Regions from separate parts of the Homo sapiens genome. Here region 1 is linked to region 2. The links come from fine-mapping of genetic effects on gene expression. Tissue or cell type: whole blood. Region 2 holds a variant in brackets; the other region holds the start of a gene. All regions are shown on one strand. Distances are from middle to middle.

What was found. PIP is the estimated chance that this variant, and not a neighbour inherited with it, causes the effect.
Region 1: it holds the start of LRP6, and the variant in region 2 is fine-mapped to the expression of LRP6 in whole blood (INTERVAL, PIP above 0.99).

Annotation. Positions count from the first base shown.
Region 1 is chr12:12,265,501-12,268,239 of GRCh38, reverse strand. It overlaps LRP6 (LDL receptor related protein 6), which reads left to right and starts at 1,196. Exons shown (of 23, transcript NM_002336.3): 1 at 1,196-1,559. The coding sequence starts at 1,505. RefSeq lists enhancers at 966-1,015, 553-1,189 and a silencer at 1,196-1,505.
Region 2 is chr12:12,161,852-12,164,351 of GRCh38, reverse strand. LRP6 (LDL receptor related protein 6) reads left to right here. Exons shown (of 23, transcript NM_002336.3): 9 at 1-79; 10 at 1,933-2,159. Among named protein-coding and RNA genes, the nearest start is that of MIR1244-4, 51 kb to the right of the region's middle. The variant G/A (reference allele first, on the strand shown) is at 1,558.

The DNA of each region.
Region 1 (2,739 bases), 100 kb before region 2:
TTGAGTGGCCCTGGGTAAGTCATTAACCTCTCAGGTTCTCATTTTGCTCCTCTGTGCAATAAAGAATAAGTAACAAAACCTGCCTTTCCCCAGGGTAGTTTTGAGTGTCAAATATGATAACTTGTGTTCAAGCACTAGTGAACTCCAATGTCACTGAGGTACTTGTTAACATTGTGGTAGCAGCTCCACTTTCTTGCCCATCTGCCTCCAGGTAAGGGCGTGTGACAGCTGGGCAGGATGCATCTGATGGCTCCATTAGGGTTAACTGTTGGAGCGCCTCTGCCCAGACGAAAGCCTGGCAGGTGATTTCAGGGGGCGTCTGGGCCATTACTCCTGAATGCCCAATGCACTGGGAGTAGCAGAGGCTGTGCACAGTCTGAGATTCTAGGGAATCTTTTCCTTCTCAAGCTGAGAATTGATAATCGAAGCATGCCAAACATTCGTTATTATATGCAACTTGTAAAATCCTAAATAGTCTTGTCCAATTGTCCCTTTGCTCTTAGGTTTTGAGGCATTTATCTTGGAATTTTATCTGCCAGTTTAGAAATCTTTAGCTGGTCGGGCTTAATTCTGGGGGCAGTTTGTATTTCTGGGAAGGCGGGAGAAAAATGACAATCTCAGTTTTGAATTGGCGTTTTAATATCGTTCACCAGATCCACGCTGAAAGCCGGTGTAAACAGCGTTCAAAAATTCCGCCCTCCCAAAAAAAGGATGCTGAAACCGATTTCCAACCCCGAAGACGGAGCTCATCACCCCGCAACGGGATCCGCCGTGGCTCCCCGCGCGTGCACCGCGGCTGGGCAGTCTCAGGTGGCTGGGGGCGCGAGACCGGAGCCCCACCTGGCCCTGCCGGCGGCGGCCGCACAAAGAGCGGGGCAGACGGCTGCCCGGCCGAGCCGCAGAAAGTAGTCCCGACCACGCCGGCTCCAATGTTGTTCAACGCCGCCTCACGCCCTCCGCGGGGAGGGCCGAAGCGGCCGGTCCGGGAAAGAATCCCGCTGGAATGCGCCACCGGGAGGAGGCTTTCCCTCCCAGTTCGCCTCTGCTAGCCCAGAACCTCTCCCAGGGTCTCAGGCAGAGGCTGTGCGTGCGGTTGCCGACTCCCTTCCCTGGCCGTACAGGAGGCAGTACCGGGAGAAGGGGCTCGTTGCGCGCAGGGACACGGTCGCGGCGACCCTAGGAGGCGGTGCCGACCGTATCCCTGCGCCGCTGCGCGAGGCAGAGGCTGAATGAGGAGCTGCGCGGGGGAAGCGGGGCGCCGGGGGAGGAGGCGGCGGGATGGAAGCAGACGCTGGCGTCGCGCGAGCCCGGGGCCGAGCGGCGCGGTAGAGAGGGCGGCGGCGGCGCGCGCGGAACCTTGACGTGCCCCTTTCTTTCTTCTCTCGCTGGGAAGCTGGGAAGTATGAGCGTGCAGCCCTGCCGCTGCGGCGGCCGCCCCGGCTCCTCGCCTCCCCCACTTCTGGCCACCCCTCGCCGGTGAGAGAAGAGAACGCGAGAAGGGAAGATGGGGGCCGTCCTGAGGAGCCTCCTGGCCTGCAGCTTCTGTGTGCTCCTGAGAGGTGGGAAGAGTGGGGGCACTGGAAAGTTGGTGGGGTTCGGGGGGAGGTGGCCTTGTTGTATGTGTCTAGGGGGAGGGGAGGGACGGAGGAAGGGAGAAGGGGAGAGGAGCGGGGAGAGGCCTGGTCGTGGGGAGGGGGAGAGAAAGGGGCCCGGGAGCAGGGGCTGCGTGCACCGCCCGGCCACAATGCGGACCTGGCCTGGCTTCCCAGACCTTCCCCGGACACATCGGAGCTTCGATCCCGGCTGCTGGTCTTAGGGAACCCTTGGCACCCCATGCTGTCGGGATGACTGAGTGTCTGTGTGCCTCTCTCTGCCTGGGGTCTTCCAGGGAAAAGGGTCTTTGTACGTATTTTGGCTTTTAAAATGTTTGAGTCCGAGATGCTTTAAGGTTGGCCTTATCCATCGAAGCCCCGCCACCCACTCCCCACCCCGTTTCGGTGTTTCTTAGGTGAACTTTTAAAGCCCTCTTGCTATTTTTTCCAGGCCTTGTTACAGGTAATGATTGGCTTCCGTTTGGGATATAATGACCCTGGGTGAGAGCGCAGTTGGAAAGTGACTCCGGGGTTATAGGTCGAGCGTTTCAGCATTGGGAGCCTTCTGAGCTTCAGCCCATAATAAAATAAAACATTGCCCTTGTAACCTCTGGTATTCACGGCTTGCCCCTATTTTCGGAGTATGCAAGTGTACAGTTGGCACTAAGTAGGGAAATTCATCCTCGTGTGAAGAGGAGCCGGTCCTGGGACCAAAATGATAATTTGCTCTGCACCCCTGGGGACTGCTTGGCACTTTGGTAAATTGCATAGGCTGTTCGAGATAATTTGCTCTGGGAATCGCTTGAATTCGATGGCACTATGATGTTTTGAATTGGACTGCAAAGCTGACACATGCTCTGTGACTTTTGTGACAGTTCACAAAGATTTTTGACTGGCCCGTCGGCAGCTCTTCTCAAACTATTTAGTGTTGAACTTGAGATGGCTGTGATGGCTGTGGAGCATTTACCAGCAGAGGAATTTAAGTACTGCTCGATACGGTGGCTTGTAGTTTTGGTTTGGTAAAGTTCTTACTGGCGTTCATAGTAAGTTCTTTTCAGGCATGTGACCGCTGGTCGCTGGAGATTTTTAGGTGTTAACAAGCTAAACTTTTGTTAAGTTCTCCAAACTAATTTAAGTTTACAGAACA
Region 2 (2,500 bases):
CACTGGTGTCAAAGAAGCTTCTGCTTTGGATTTTGATGTGACAGACAACCGAATTTATTGGACTGATATATCACTCAAGGTTAGCAAAAGAATTGGAATATTAAAGCTAGGGACTAAAAGGGAGAACTTCTAGAATTTCTGAATCTTCATGCTGTGACCCACCTCCCTCATTGTTTGACAGGCAGAGTTCAACAAAAACCCTCAAGTTTTTTTTTTTTTTTTTAAACGGTGTCTTGCTCTGTCACCCAGGCTGGAGTGCAGTGGTGCAGTCTCGGCTCACTGCAACCCCTGCCTCCCAGGTTCAAGCGATTCTCCTGCTTCAGCCTCCCGAGCAGCTAGGACTACAGGTGCGTGCCACGACGCCCAGCTAATTTTTGTATTTTTAGTAGTGACGGGGTTTCACCATGTTGGCCAGGCCGCTCGAACTCTTGACCTCGTGATCCGCCCGCTTCGTCCTCCCAAAGTGCTGGGATTACAGGCGTGAGCCACCGCGCCCAGCCAAAACCCTTAAGTTTTTAAGTGAAGGGAAAGGCCCATTCAGTATTTTATTAGATGCTTTTTAATACAGATACTTTGCCAGAGTGTTTTAAATCTGCAAGCCATAGTCTTCCTCTACTTTCTTCCATTTGAAAATGATGAATGACATTTTCTGCAATTAGCTGAGTAAGGAAATGTGTGCTTCACGTAAAATGGCTGTTGATTTACTTTAAAAAAAAATTCGTGATTTACTTTAAACAAAATTTTAGGGCCTGACTGAGGCGGAAAAGGCCAACAATGAGTTATTCTTTATTTTCTTCTTCCTAGAATAGTTACTGAAAAGAATACCAGGATAGCCAGAGAGGAAGCTCCCAACCTATAAATCTGAAGAATAATCTTTTCTTCTTCCAGATTGTTTTGGGCTTGTTTCAGATAACTCATGTAAACTTTTTTGTAATATGCGAAAACATGGGGTGTTGGAGTCAGAGTTGGATTCTAATGGTGTTCAGTTAAATTTATTAAGTGAATAAATGAAATAAATAAATTTTGGTTTGCATTGGGTGATGTTCTAAATTTCCTCATCTTGAAAATGGGGGGTGGCTGGGTGCGGTGACTCAGGCCTGTAAATCCCAGCACTTTGGGAGGCTGAGGCACATGGATCACCTGAGGTCACGAGTTTGAGAACAGCCTGGCCAACATGACAAAACCCCGTCTCTACTAAAAATACAAAAATTAGCTGGTCATGGTGGCGCATACCTGTAATCCCAGCTACTCGGGAAACTGAGGCACGAGAATCACTTGAACCTGGGAGGCAGAAGTTGCAGTGAGCCGAGATCATGCCACTGCACTCCAGCCTGGGTGACAGAGTGAGACTCTGTCTCAAAAACATAAAATAGGGGTGATGCCATACTTGCAGGACTGTTGTATTAAGTGACAAAATCTACGGACAAAACGTACTTAGGATAATACTTGATAAGATGTATCTATTATTAGTTTGAATTATGATTTTTAAAAGTGTTATGGGACTCAGTGCTATAATGGTAGTATAATGGTTACATTCATTTATATGGTAGGCATGAT[G/A]ACTTGCCATAATCTTAAGCACCTTTAGAAAATTGACCACTAATTAAGATCTGTAGCATTGTGGTCACAGCTTTTCCACTTGATTACTGATAAATTTTAAAAGTAAAGTCATTCTGCTGTTAGTAGAATAAATTTTTGGTGCATTAGAGTTTTAAAATTTCTCCCCTGAATTGGCAGTAAAACTTGAAGTTGCATTTATTAGAGATTGACATCAAATTTTTCTGTGCTTGCAAGTTATGTGAATTTTAATAGGAAATAGTATGCCTCTTGGCACTTCTGGATCCTCTTGCCCCTGACAAAAACCAAACCAAACCTTCTTTCTGGATAGGGTTTAGACTTATGCCATATGACTTAGTTGTTAATGTTCTTTTGCAGACCATCAGCAGAGCCTTTATGAATGGCAGTGCACTGGAACATGTGGTAGAATTCGGCTTAGATTATCCAGAAGGCATGGCAGTAGACTGGCTTGGGAAGAACTTGTACTGGGCAGACACAGGAACGAATCGAATTGAGGTGTCAAAGTTGGATGGGCAGCACCGACAAGTTTTGGTGTGGAAAGACCTAGATAGTCCCAGAGCTCTCGCGTTGGACCCTGCCGAAGGGTAAACAGCTTTACATGTGCATTCTTTGCAACTGCAGTGTACATTTCGGGGAACATGGCATAGTTACAGATGATATTCTTAATGTTTTAAATAATACGTATTAGGAATCTGAGAACTAAATGATAGATGAACTTTTAAAAACACTATTGATATTTTGCTGATTTGAATGAATAATTATTAGCTAATTTTACTCTTGTCGTAATTAACTTTAGGTGAAGAAAGAGGGGAATGGGTTAATAAATGTTACTGATGAGTATACTGATATGTTAAGTATATATACCAAGAGGTATTATCCATCTGTAGTTGCTTGCACTCCTTCCCAGTTATACTAGATTCCAAGC